Linked DNA regions of Homo sapiens. The protein of the gene in region 2 purifies or fractionates together with the protein of the main gene of each other region. This does not show direct contact. Each region holds a gene or a part of one and is shown on either strand. Other genes may lie near its edges.

The links. Proteins that work in one complex are often made in the same cells at the same time.
Region 1: the proteins of CST5 (region 2) and FKBP15 purify together in Homo sapiens (co-immunoprecipitation; 2 studies listed by BioGRID and IntAct, with this or other methods). This does not show direct contact.

Annotation. Positions count from the first base shown.
Region 1 is NC_000009.12:113,169,271-113,176,296, forward strand, and holds part of FKBP15 (FK506-binding protein 15), read right to left. Parts: intron 5,314-7,026; coding exon 5,158-5,313; intron 4,336-5,157; coding exon 4,183-4,335; intron 2,437-4,182; coding exon 2,311-2,436; intron 1,360-2,310; coding exon 1,252-1,359; intron 673-1,251; coding exon 1-672. UniProt on the Homo sapiens protein: May be involved in the cytoskeletal organization of neuronal growth cones. Seems to be inactive as a PPIase. Involved in the transport of early endosomes at the level of transition between microfilament-based and microtubule-based movement.
Region 2 is NC_000020.11:23,876,739-23,884,364, reverse strand, and holds the start of CST5 (cystatin-D precursor), read left to right. Parts: upstream 1-4,616; 5' UTR 4,617-4,688; coding exon 4,689-4,919; intron 4,920-6,746; coding exon 6,747-6,860; intron 6,861-7,626.

The DNA.
Region 1 (7,026 bases), on a different chromosome or scaffold from region 2:
TGTGGAACCTGCCTCTGTGCTTGACAGCTCCTTGTGGGGACCGGTGGAGCTAGTGACATCATCTTTCTTGAGCTGTGGAGGCTGAGGCTCTCCTGGGCTTTCAGGCCCTAAGGCCAGTGGGTCCCCCTCCTCGGGGTCTGAAGTCAGGGACAGTCTTGTGGAGCTTTCTTGTAGTGGGCCATCTGGTGCTACTTCCCTGACACAGACCTTTCCTGATGGGTTGTCGGGCTTAGCTGCCATTGGGCTGGCAGCAAGTGACTCCTCACACTCAGAGTCCATGGATACAGGGCCTAGGGGCTCAGGTGGAATTGAAGTCGGGGGCCCTAGAACTCTGTGGGATGGGATGCAAGACAGTTCGGGTGGAAGGGAACCATCTTTTATCTCTGAGAGTGCCTCAGCTTCTGAGTCCCCTTTCCTTCTGTGTCCATCCTGGGAAGTGGTGAGGGCCTGAGGAGGCAACGGGACAGCTTCCTCGACCACCTGCTCTGAGGGCACCATGGGGGACTCTGGCCTCTCCCTATTCAGGGGTGCTTGAGGCTGCCCAGAACTGGCTGAGGCTGACTGCTCCTGGGAAGGTCTTCGTGGCCGCTCTTCTGCTTTTTCTTCTTCTTCTTCACTGCTGCTCTCTTCCTTCTCTTGCTCCTGTTGGTTTAACAGCTGAAGAGTCACCATCTATTCAAAAGCCAAGGAAGAGATGGTCACTGAAAGGAACACAGTAGCCACTCCTAATTCTTATTAACACTACTGGTCATGTAGTTTAAATGACTTTGCTTCTTTCCTGTTAAAAGAGGCTGACTATATCTGTCAAGTCACTCCAGGCATCCTAATTACTGAGGAACAGTCCTGAATAATTTTCTTTTTTTTTTCTTTGGAGACAGGGTCTTGCTCTGTTATCCAGGCTGGAGTGCAGTTGGGGGCAATCATGGCTCACTGTAGTCTTGAACTCCTGGGCTCAAGTGATTCTCCTGCCTCAGCCTCCCAAGTAGCTGGGACTACAGGCACGTGCCACCATACCCGGCTAATTTTTAAATTTTTAATTTTAGTAGAGACAAAGTCTCATTATGTTGCCCAAGCTGGTCTCAAGCTCCTGGCCTCAAGCAGTCCTCCCACCTTGGCCTCCCAAAATGCTGGGATTACAAGCATAAGCCACTGTGCCAGCTTTGAACAATTTTTTATTCATGATCCCTTAGAAGGTACTTAAGCAACAAAATGCCCAATACGATGAAACAAATGACAGCTGGCTGGCTGTACCTTGATCGTATTCATGATGGTTCCCAGAATGGTCCTGCCATTGTAAGATTCCTCCAGCTCAAACTCTCTCCGTAAGGACTGGAACACCTGGTTCATGATCTTCTTGACCTGTGTGAACATCAAAACACATGCTGTCAAAATCAAGTCACTAAAGGATGCATTAAATTCCAGAGAGGTGTATGGAAGGCCAAAATGAAGCCATCTTAGATCTCTACACTGGGATACTGCTGGTCATAAGCAGAGACACTGAAGGCTGTCACTGTGGAGAGGATGATATTAAATAATGAGCAGCACTTTGACAGAAGGGCTAGTCATGAGAGTTACCTATCAAGGGCAGGCAAGCTGTGGTCTGTGTGCCCAAGACTGCTTAAAGACCATTTCTTGATGTCCCCCTCCCACTGTGAGCACCACTAGGAGCTGCCATAGGCTCTAAGGGTCAGAGGCCAGTGGATGCTGGGCACACTCCCCAAGCCCCATTCTTCTTCTGTGGTTAGAGGCCCTTCCTATACCTGTCAAAACCTCAGAAAGATAGGGTTCTTTTGGGTTTGCCACTTAATATGTAAGTATGTATTTGTTTGTTTTCCCACTAGGCTGTAAGCTCCTTAAACTCAAGAACCAAATCTGGGCCGGGCATGGTGGCTCATGCCTGTAATCCCAGCACTTTGGGAGGCTGAGGCAGGCGGATCACAAGGTCAAGAGACCGAGACCATCCTGGCCAACATGGTGAAACCCTGTCTCTACTAAAAATACAAAAATTAGCTGGGTGTGGTGGCGCGTGCCTGTAGTCCCAGCTACTCAGGCGGCTGCGGCAGGAGAATCGCTTGAACCTGGGAGGCGGAGGTTGCAGTGAGCCAAGATCACATCACTGCACTCTAGCCTGGTGACAAAGTGAGACTCCGTCTCAAACAAACAAACACCAAATCTGGTTCATTTTAAAGTCATCAGACAAGTAAAACATCACTAAAGTTAGAAAAAGAGCTATTAACACAACATACTGGCCATGTTCTTTCTGAATGCTTGATATAAATGGCTTGCTTCTCATTTGAAATACCAGCTCACCTTCTCTGAGGGGTCAGATGCAGCAGCTTCAACCCCAGACATCTGGGACTTGTTCTTCTCTAGTTCCTTGATGTGCTGTTCATTTTGCTTGGTGAGAGCTGTGATTTGGGCCTGGAGGGCTAAACACTGCAAAACAAACAGACTGTGGCTGTGGCCTCAGGAACCAGGTGAAGGTCAGAAAACCCAAGGGGAGGAGAACCACCCAAACATCAAGTCTCTTTTTTTTTTTTTTGCATATAATAAAAAGACAATTTTATTTCAAATTCTTTTTTTTTATTATTATTATACTTTAAGTTCTAGGGCACATGTGCACAATGTGCAGGTTTGATGCATAGGTATACATGTGCCATGTTGGTGTGCTGCACCCATCAACTCATCATTTACATTAGGTATTTCTCCTAATGCTATCCCTCCCCCCGTCCCCCAACCCCCGACAGGCCCCGGTGTGTGATGTTCCCCGCCCTGTGTCCAAGTGTTCTCACTGATCAATTCCCACCTATGAGTGAGAACATGCAGTGTTTGGTTTTCTGTCCTTGTGATAGTTTGCTGGGAGTGATGGTTTCCAGCTTCAACCATGTCCCTGCAAAGGACATGAACTCATCCTTTTTTATGGCTGCATAGTATTCCATGGTGTATATGTGCCACATTTTCTTAATCCAGTCTATCACTGATGGACATTTGGGTTGGTTCCAAGTCTTTGCTATTGTGAATAGTGCCACAATAAACATACATGTGCATGTGTCTTTATAGTAGCATGATTTATAATCCTTTAGGTATATAACCAGTAATGGGATTGCTGGGTCAAATGGTAATTCTAGTTCTAGATCCTTAAGGAATCGCCACACTGTCTTCCACAATGGTTGAACTAATTTACACTCCCACCAACAGTGTAAAAGCGTTCCTATTTCTCCACATCCTCTCCAGAATCTCTAAACATCAAGTCTTAACCTCGCCTAGGTCTGCTGGTGTCCACTCCCTCAGCCCCCACCCACGACCCTCTGCCTCAGAGAGTTCTATCTCCTCATCATTCGACTTCAACGCAAAACTTCACTTTCTCTTTCCCAAGAAGGTTGCTTGCCTTGTTCCCAATCAGGTAAAAAATATAATGAAAAAAGAGCAGGAGGGTAGGTAATAACTAGTCATTTAGACATAAACATTCAGCATTAACAGCAACCCATTTGTCATTCATCTGCAAGATTGCCTCCAAGATCTCTGAGCCAAAAGTTTTCAACTGGACACTTTAAGGAAAGAAACTGACCTCGAATATGGACTTTCACACCATGACCCTAAGCCATGTCCCATCTCTCTTTTTCAGGCCTGATGATCCCACCACACCCCAGCCTCCATCCTATCTCAGTGCCTTTGCCCAGGATGTTCTGCCTCCTTTGCTGCCTTACCAAAGCTATTTGTCCTTCTTGGCTCTGCTCAAATGTCACCACCTTTGGGAAACCTTCCCAGCTCTCCTGGGTACTTCCTCTTCTGGGCCCCATAGCACTTAACACCTATCTTTGTTTCTTTGTCTCCCTTTCTTGACTGTGAGATACATGAGGGAAGGGTTCCTTGTATGCACTTCCTTTAACACACTGGATGGAATACAACTGACTCTCAATAAATATTTGCTTAATAAATGAAGGATCCAATAATAATGGGAAACATGTTCCGGAACACTAGTGCTGTTTTCTCTTTTTCCAGGTCACTGACCTATCACCCCACATAAGTATGTGAAAGATAACTGACAAGCTAAACAAGTGTGGTTTTGTCTTCTAGATATTAATAACTTTCAGGCTTAGAAGGATCGACAGGACTCAAACAGCCTGCTTGCCTCAAATTAACTGGGCTGCCTAAACTGTCTGACTCAAGAAAAATATGTACCTTTTCCTGAAGTTGTACCAGCTTCTGCTGGTAGGCATCTCTCTGTGCGCACACCTCCTGGTACTGCTGCAGGTGCTCATCCTTGGCGGAGGCCAACAAATGTTCACATTTTGCTTCCCACTGGGTCTGTAGCTCAGCCTGTACTAAAGACAGCTGCCAAGAGAAAGTAATGACCATATCATCCTTGGGGGTGGGGGAGTGAGATTCCATTGCACCTAGGGAAACCCATCTTTCAAAAAGCAAAAGAATAAGCTAACAGCCCAGATTTAACTGGGAAACTGTTTAAAAGACTCATTACTTTTAAAATAAATGCACTTCTTAAGATGTCATTGGTTGTCAGGACTCCAAAAGGTACTCCAAGCAGACAAAAGTGTGCCTATCTAGATAGGTCCCTGGAGGGCAGGGCCATGTGATCACTGCTTTTCAGGGTCTGAACCCTAAACTTTATAGGTTCAGAAACTTTTTTTCACCAAAATTCCCAGAGGTGGTCAAATTGAGGGCACCAATGCACTCTAATTAAACAAATGTATGCATATAAATTTTAAGCTTATAATGAGAAAGGTTGCTGTTGCACAGACTAGAGATCCAGCTGTGTCCTGCCACTATCCCTGGTTCCCTTCCTGATGACCTAAATCAATCCCTTCTTTTCAAGGATGATAATGTGCCTGAAGGATGGTGTCCAATGGTTGATGGTTTTGGCCTTACCATGTTTGGAATTTTTTTTGTAAGGAAACTATTTTTCATTTTTACTTATGTAATTAAATATTAACTAAGCTTTAAAAAAAGAAAGAAGATTCTCCATTTGATTCCTGGCTCTCCTGCACATATCTGGATTACTTTTTCTACCTTTCTCCAAAGTGAGAGTATCAGCTATGAGAAATGTCATCCTAAAGGGTAAGGAAGAAACCAGAAGCTTTTCTCTCTGAGTCCTTCACACCTTCCCTCTATTTTCAAAGTGCTTCAGTTTCCCATTACCTGCTCTGCAGCTGCTTGGTCTGTGGACACTCGAGTCTTTTTCAAGAGCTGTCGAAGTTTGTCCAATTCCTCCTGGTATGACTTGCGAATTTCATCTATCTCCTCCTCGGCCTGAGAACGCTCTTGAGCTGACTTCTTTTTCCTTTCTGAGAGGTTCTTAGGAACAAGAGAACCATCATCAGCTCTAGCTTGTTAACAGAGAATAAAGAGGGATGATGGCGGTGGCAGTTAATTACCTTGTGGAATCCTTACTCCATTTCTGAAAACTCCATTTTTTAGTTGAATTTTCCCCTAAATATTTAACATTCTTGGCTACTGGGTGAGGAAAATGGTGACAGGAGAAGGAAAACAAGAAGAGCTGTATCTACCCCTCTATTAAGAGCTAGGGAAATTGGGAGGCCGAGGCGGGCGGATCACGAGGTCAGGAGATCGAGACCATCCCGGCTAAAACGGTGAAACCCCGTCTCTACTAAAAAATACAAAAAATTAGCCGGGCGTAGTGGCGGGCGCCTGTAGTCCCAGCTACTTGGGAGGCTGAGGCAGGAGAATGGCATGAACCCGGGAGGCGGAGCTTGCAGTGAGCCGAGATCCCGCCACTGCACTCCATCCTGGGCGACAGAGCGAGACTCCGCCTCAGAAAAAAAAAAAAAAAAAAAAAAAAAAAAAAAAAAAAAGAGCTAGGGAACATCCTAACTTTAATAAAGGTACAGGAAATCAGACATTCTCATACCCTGATAGTAAGAAAACGAATGGATATACTCTCTTTGGATAGTAATCCTGTGAAAAGCCTTTAAAAACATACGTATCCAGAAATTCCACAAATTGTAATTAAGGATTCAATAAGTCATAGTCATAAAGAGTGTGTTACAAGGATGGTCACTGTAGTAGTATCTATAGTAATGACAAACTGAAAACAGCCAAGAGGTTAGAAGGAATTGGTTAAAAATAAATAAATAAAATGGAAAAAATCCTGGAAAAAAATGCAATTGCAGACCAAGATTTACCCTCTTAAAAGGCACTGGGCCAAAACAGCTTTACCTAATGAGATTTACTGAAGCCTCAGGAGCAGTTTATTATTTTCATATTTAAACGATTCCAGAACAGACAAAAAGATAGAAATGTTCTCACTTTGTTCACTTAGTATTTCCTGATATTAAAATTTTAACCAACAAAAGATACTATAAATAAAGTTAAAAGACAGCAAGCTAGAAAAATATTTACAACATCTATGACTGACAAAGGATTGATACCCTTAAAAGGGTTTACAAATCAAACTAATAATAGGAAAAAGGATAAAGGACACTAAAGAGAGAATGTACATAAGAAATACAAATAGGTATTAAATATATGAAAGCTTTACTACTAATAAAAATACACATTAAAACAAGATAACATATTTCACCTGTCAGACTAATGAAGATTAGAAAAAGTGATATATGTAGAGTGGGGAAGAATGTGACAAATGGGCTCACTCACATACTGCTGAAAGTGTAAGCACTATTCTTTGAGGATAACCTGGTAATATTTATAAAAATTCAAATATGTAGCCTTCCCTTTGATCCCATGATTCTTACTCATGCAATCCATCACGTAGGAATGCTCAAACAAATTTGCAAAAACAGTTATATAATATGAGAATGTCCATAGAAGCAGTGCTTAAAATAATGAAAAAATAAAAACATAAATATCCATCGATAGGCAAATCATTAAACAAATTATGGTACAGCCTCATAGTAGGCTACTATGCAGCAGTTAACTACGAGTGAGAAAGATCTCCTTCTTATGTAGTACAAGTCCATGACATTTTCCTAAAAAACATTAAACGTGATACCACTACTGTAAAAAAAGTTGTCAGTATACATACATGTA
Region 2 (7,626 bases):
AGGGGTTTCTGGCTGAACTGACCAAACAGGATTCTTGCTAAAGGCAGGACACAGCCTTAGACATCAAAGCTGAGGGATGAGGAACTTGATCAGATGTCAAGGGTGATCAGACCCCAAGGACAGCAGGATTCTCCCTAAAAGGAAGCAGGATTCTTTCCTAAAACTGAGCAATGCAGACCTGGCAGGTAGGAGCTGGAGACCAAGGTTGAGGCCTAGTGAAGAAGGCTCAGAGGAGCCTTAAAGTTTCGTTAGAGAGTCTTTTCACTGGATCCAGCTCCTCTGTGACAGGAGGAGAGGGCAGGCAGGGCCACAAGAGCAGGCAGGCTGTCCTGATGGCCTCTGGCTCCAGCTCCAGCACCCACTGATTGAGTGTAACAGGATTCCAGGCAGGAACAGGAACCACTCTCCACAGCCACTGCAGTCTGCTAAAGGAATTGATATTTAAGGTTAGACAAACAGTGACAGGGAAGTCCCAGCAGTGACCTGAATGGGGATTAGAAAGGAAACTCTCACCACACAGAGATGCCAAGGGGATTGCTCTCCCCTCAGAGCCATCTGTATTCTCCTGGGCCAGGCCCCTGCAGGCTGGGACCAGGGAGTTGGGGGAAGTCCCTGGGTGCATCAGCAAGCAACCCGAGTTCCCAAGGAACTCTCCCTGTCCTCTCCACTCGGCTGTGGTTCTCTAGCCATGGCTCTGCTAGGAAGAATGTACTCCTTGAGAAAATAAATAGTAACCTTGCAATCTAAAATCCTAAGTGCTGTTTACACATTGATCCCTGAGCAGGAAACTTCCCAAGGATTCTCTTTCCCTCCATAAAGGGCCAAACTCTCAGACCTCAGATCCTGGGCTCTGTACGCCCTTTTCCTGTAGGGGCTTTGGGCATGCTTCACAGCAAGTACCAGAGTTCATAATAATGTGGCCTCATCCCCATCAGAGCCCAGATGCTTACCAATGGTGGCCAATGGTCCAGGAGTATCTCAGGTCCCCCACAGTTGGGAGCAGGGAGGGGGAAGGAGGAAGGGTGTGCATAAGGGACAAGCTTGACCCCAGAGAACTCGCAGCACTCCATAAAGGAGGATTCTGGGCTTCCCCTTTGAGAAGCCAACAAATCCCGTGGCTGCTCAGTCCCATCTCCTATCACAGACACTGAATGTTAATTGCTCAAAACCCGGATGTGCAGAATCTCAACTCTTGGCCAACTTGATCTAACCACTTGCACTTTAGGTGATGTTTATGCCCTTAGGTATTTATTGGTTATAATATTGTTTAGTGTTTCCCTTTACTGCTTATTTATTATAGAGAACTTCTGTCACTCACCTAATTTCTCACTCTACTAATTCAATCATGGGATCAAGTTACACACGCAACCTGGGAGAACACGGCTTTCTCTTTCATCCACTGGCAGAAAGGAAACATGCCCCCTCCTGGGCAACTGGACTCCTCCAGATTACGAAGGTGCTGGAGGCCCCAGGCTTGGTCCTGAGTCCATTGTTTATCTCTGGGTCCCTGCCAGCCTGTCATTGGAGCTGTAAGCTATAGGAACTAAGTCTCCATCTTTTTTTGAGATGGGATCTCACTGTGTTGCACAGTGTGGTCTGGAACACCTGGGTTCAAGAGATCCTCCTGCCTCAGCCTCAAGAGTAGGTGTACAGGCATGCCATAACACTGGGCTATTGTAAATTTTAACCACACTTAAATGTCACTGCAGAATCAAACTTATCTTGCTGGTTTTGAACCACCAGACACCACCATTTACAAAGCAGCTCACCTTTCCATATGCATGACACATAGAGAAGGCAAAACATTTTCCCAAGGTCACCCAGCAGCTGGAGCAGCTGTCCATCTACCCTAACCTTCCACTTACCATCACCCATACTGGATGCATCTCTTGTAGTTCCTGAGAGTGCCCTACATGGGGGTCTGACTACAAAGATTAGAGTGGCCACTGTATCAGGCCTGTTGACCCTCCCTATAGCTCATTCCAGTGTCCTGACAGAGGATGACCACTGGCGGTGGCATCACATACAGGGAAATAGGCCAGCACTCCAGCTCCCACCCCATACTCCACCCACCACCATATGCCTGTTATGTGGATGACCTGCATCTCCTTCCTAATGATAAAAGATAGGAGAGATTTGTATGTATTTCAGCTTACCCTCTGCACAACACATCCTCCTGAGAGTTGAGACCTAGCGGCCAGGGAAGGTGGGAGCCACAGAGGAGACCCAACTCCCACACTTGGGAGATGACCATTCTGCCCACAAGCACCTGGCCAGGGACTGCCCTCTCTTTCCCTTCTCTGGGAATCTCCCCCAATTTCCTGTCTAACTAGGAGGCATCACGTGCAGCCCTGCTTGAAGACCTTCCCTCCCTCACCCAGCAGTAAACACTATCCCTGGGCCACCTGCTGTATCTGCTGGAGTGCATGGCTTTTCTAGGGGTGCTGGATTCACAGTGGGGTGCAATGGTCACTGGGCCTTGGGTAAAAAGGTCCCCTGTCCTCATACTGAACATGAGCACCCATGAGTAATATTGTTCCCGCTGTCGGGTTCCTGCTGATGCAGCCCCAGCCATGGCGGAGCCCCAGGATTATAGCAGGTCTGGGCTGATCCTGGCCGACCCTCACCTCCACCACTCCCAGGAGAGTCCTCTGGGTGTCCTGCTAAGGCCCAGGGTTTCCTGGTGTTTCTGGCCAAGCCTGCCACCTCGCCATAAGGGCATTTGCCGCAGGATCACCTTCAGGCATGGAGGGGGGGTTGAGAGAACAAAGGGAGCAGCTGTCTGTTCAGAGCCTCCTTCCACCCTCCCTACTCCTGAAGTCACATTCCAGTCCAGGCCCACAGCATCCCGAGCTGGGGGCTTTGTCAGCCCACAGGGCACCCAACTGACCACATCCTCTCAGTCTGTGGAGAAGGAGAACTCTCAATCCTGGCAATGAAGCCACGCTGAGCAAAGGACGAAGACACACCTGGGCTCTCTCTGCAGGATTCCATTCCTGGGAAGCTCAAGGACAGGCAACAAAGGAGTCCACAGGACCAGATGTGGGCTGCCAGGGTCGGGTGGGCATGAGGGTGGGCTTCAGAGGCAGGAGGAAACCATCTGGGGTGAGGCAGATATCACAGGTGTGGACAAAGTGGTAACACAAGTGTATGCATTTATGAAATCCCCCAGATTGGGCACATACAATTAGGCATTTTATTGTGTGTAAATTCTACCTCATTCAATGTAATTTTTAAAATATTACATGAGTTTTCCAAGCAGTGTACAGAGGACCAGTGCTGGCAGCACGTCTCCCAGAGGGGAGGAGCAAGAGAGGCTCTTGGGCTCCCACATTCATCCTGTGGCTGCTGCTCCTTCTCCTGACACCCCCACCACCTGCCAGGGGTCTCCCTGCGCCTTCCACCTGGACACACCCACAGTTACCGTGAGACTCCAGGTCGTTCCCTTCCCTGCTCACACCCCCTCCAGGAGCTTCCTCTTCCTGGAGCAGGCATGCCCAGCCTTGCCTCAGGGCCTTTGCACTGACTATTCCCTGCTGCCTGGGGCTTCTCAACCTTTCCGGTCTCTTAGAGACTTCCCTGACCAGGGTCCAGTAGCACCCACCCTCTCTCTAACTGAGCGACTATAATTCCCTGATCTAAATTGTTGATCACCACTCTGCATCCTCCCACACACCCTAATGGCTGGGCTATGCAGTACCACAGCCACCAGCAGCCACTCGTGGCCACAGGGCACTTGAAATGGGGCTAGTCCACAGTGACGCTTGGTCTAACTGTAAAAAATACACAGGGAACTTCAAGACATTACACTCACACAAAAGAATGTAAACTAGCTCCTTAAGAATAGTCCTGAAGTGTTGAAGTATTTTGGATATATTAGGTTAAAGTAGAAATACCAAAATTACTTTCAGCTGTATCTTTTAACTTTTTCAAATGTGTTTTAAATTGCTCCTGGGTTTCTGTCACATCTCTGTTGGATGGCAGCTCTGCAAGTTCATGTCTACGGCTCTATTGCCCAGACTGCTTGGTGCAGGGGGAAGCTGGTGACAGGTTTGTTTATTGAATAATGAGGAGTTATGAAACGAGAACCCAGTGAACTTTACCCAAAGGTTAATTACTTTATGTTTGGCAAAGAAGTTCCCCAGAAGAGGGCATGGACAAGGTCATCCCGGAGCTTCTGAAACAGCTCCCTGCCCCAGGAATTCCCAGACCATGACCACGTGCTCCTGGATGCCCCTGACATCTGAAGACTTTAGAAGGCCAAGCCCTGTATTTCTCCCTTTCCTGTGGACATAGGTGGTCACCAGGTTTCACAGCCCAGGGAGCGGTGTCACCTCTCTGGAATCCAGAGTGAGCCAAGCTTTAGAGCACTGAGGAAGAGGGGCAGGGCTGTGGGGAGGTTGCGGTCAGGACAGGAGTGGGGAGGAGGATGAGGAGGAGGCATGGGAGGAGCGAAGGGAACTTAGGGAGGGAGGGAGGTGGTTGGGGGTGGAAAGGGAGATAGAGACAGAAGAGGAGGGGTAGAAAGAGGAGGAGGAGCCAGGGGCGGGGCCAGGGAGCAGGTGGGGTTGGGGGACACCCAAGTAGGATAAATGCACAGCTAGCTTCTGGCCTGGGCTTCCTGCCTCAGCCTTCTGCTGCTTTGCTCTCTGGGAGATCCAGCTCCTTGCTCTGTGTCCCAGTAGAACATGATGTGGCCCATGCACACCCCACTGCTGCTGCTGACTGCCTTGATGGTGGCCGTGGCCGGGAGTGCCTCGGCCCAATCTAGGACCTTGGCAGGTGGCATCCATGCCACAGACCTCAATGACAAGAGTGTGCAGTGTGCCCTGGACTTTGCCATCAGCGAGTACAACAAGGTCATTAATAAGGATGAGTACTACAGCCGCCCTCTGCAGGTGATGGCTGCCTACCAGCAGGTGCGTGCTACCACCACCCTGGGGGTCCTGAGTCCCAGCTGGGTTTTTTGCCTCACCCCCCAGAGCACTCCCAGCAAATCAACATTATCTAAACCGCAGACTCATTCAGCTTTCTCTGACTGTCTGCTGATGGTCTTCATGCCCTAGGACACTCCTTGGCCGTGAGTGCATGAGTTCAGCCCTGTCCTGTCCCCTCGGCCTCTTTTAACCTGCAGCAGCCACTGTGTCTGTACCATGACTGTGGCATTTCCCAGGGTCCAGCAGGTGTGGATGGAGACTGTGCTGACTCTGGGTGGGCTTGATGCTGCTCAGGATGAGATCCAGGCCACGAGGTTCATCTTCCTCCCTGAGTCCTCTCCACAGGGGCCACACGGGAACCTGACTCCTTGTCCTGGATAGCCCCGCTTCCCTCCCAAGTCACGCCCCTGGGCACAGCCCGTTATGGCTAGTGGCCTTCACTCTCAGGCTGGCTGACCACCCCCTACAGCCCAGGACAGCTGAGTTCCTGCTGGGGTAGAGCATGCCTGACCCTGCCTCTGCCAGCTAACGCAGAGTTAGACCTCAGCAAAATGAGGACAGCAATCACCCAGCAGAGTGAAGGAGGTGGTTGGGTCCAGAGGGAGGAAGCTTCAGCAGGGCTACCGAGCCCAGCTTGACCTACGTCCCATGGCAGAGCAGCAGTGACACAGCGACCACAGGGCTATATGGCCTGCCAGCCTTTAGAGCTCCTCCACCTTCTCTTGGAAAGTCAGAGGAGTCCAGACCAGCCCTGTTTCTCCTCCTGCAGCCCTCTCCCTGCACAGGAGGGGCATTCCCTGGTGCTGTGGTCCCTGCTGGCCTGCACTCCCTCTTAAGTGTGTCACTCACTGGGAGTGAAGCACAGAATGATGTAGATCGTTGGGCCCTGGAGCCTATTTTACAGAGCAGCAGACTGACACCGGAGGGATCACAGGACTTCCATGTGGTTCTACAGGACTTGTGTGTGGTTCCACAGGGCAAGGTCTAGCACCCTGGTCCCAGGGTCCCTCATCCCATGCTTCTCCACAGTTCTGACAAGTCATGTTTTGGGGCGGCACTGTGCAGGGAAAGCATTCAGTTCTCTTCTGAAGTTGCAACCCTAAGACATGCAGGTGTGTGACTCACTTTAGAAATATTGCCTTGAAAATCACACCTGGAATGGAGGCATGCAGGAGGCAATGTTTATTGGCCTAAAACATCAATGTATGTGAGCATCTCATCTCCTACTGAGAAATGAGGAAAAATACCTCTGGGTTAAATGGCAGGAATGAGATGCTCTGTGGACTGAATGCCAGGAGCTGGAAGTTAGCTGAAATTTCATCATCAGGTGGCAGCCTTCCTAGGATGGGACCAGTGTCCCTGCCCCCTGAGCACAGGTAGCAGAATTCAGTTAATCCTTTGCTGTGGGAAAGAGCATTCACTTGGTGCTTAGACCCTGCCCTGCAAGCCTGGTGCCAGGACTGTTTCTTTGTCCCACCCTGGCTGGTTCCCCAGAGCTGTGCCTTCTGTTCCTGAATCCAGTGAAGGGGGTTTTAGGCCCTGGCTTCCATCTGCCCTGCCCCTGCTTCTCTTTCTACTGGGCTGCATGAGACAGCTTGCTTGAGATACCCAGAGAAAACAAGTTACTAGGAAGGACTGGGACACACTACCACTGCCAGCCAGCAGGAGAAGGTGGCTTGTGTGCCTTTTGGGTGACAGTGTGGGCATGAAGCCCCAGGCAAGCCCAGTGACTCAGTCACAGTGAAGTGCCTGCGTGTGCATGAAACTGACAGCATGCTGCCCCTGCTTCCTGCTCTTCCACGCGTGTAGATCGTGGGTGGGGTGAACTACTACTTCAATGTGAAGTTCGGTCGAACCACATGCACCAAGTCCCAGCCCAACTTGGACAACTGTCCCTTCAATGACCAGCCAAAACTGAAAGAGGTATGTGCCTGATGTGGGTCAGGGGCATCAAGTACCGCAGAGCAGTGTGTGCATGTGTGTGTGTGTATGTGTGTGTGCACGCATCTGTACTCCTGCACATGCTTTGGAGGGCATGTGTGCATGTGTGCAGATATTTGTGGGGCCACGTATGCAAGGATGTATTCATGTGCATGGGAGGATGCATGTGTGTTTGGCACACATGTGCAGATGTGTATTGTGAAGTCAATGAATGTGTTTGTGCATATGGAGTTTTGTGTATGCATGAATGAATGTGTGGGATGGTGTACACATGTGGCTATGCATGTAGAAAGATGCATATGTGTGCATACATGAGGAAGATGCACAGGAGTGTGTGTGTGCATGTGTGTGGATGTGTGAAGGAGTATGTGGGTTCATGCATATATTCGTTTGGGTGAGGGTTGCTGTGAGTTAATATAGATGCCTATGTGTGTGCAGATGGAGTGGTGTGGATAGGGGTGATGAATTTGTTTTGCTAGGAAGACTTTAGCTTGGTAATGGTTACTGGGAGGTCAACTCTGCCTGCTTTGGGGTGTTGTCTGTTGGACTGGAGGAAGAAGCTGCTGGGCTGGGTTCTGGTCAGAAAGAAGGGGCTCTGTCTAACCCCAGCCTCAGGCACCTGCCTGCAGCCACAGCCACTCTGAGCACATTAGAAGGAATTAAATGCCTGTTAGCTGAGAAGCCCTGGACCTGCCCCAGCTCACCCAACATCAGCCTCTCCAAGAACCCAGGATTTCTTTCGAGGTCT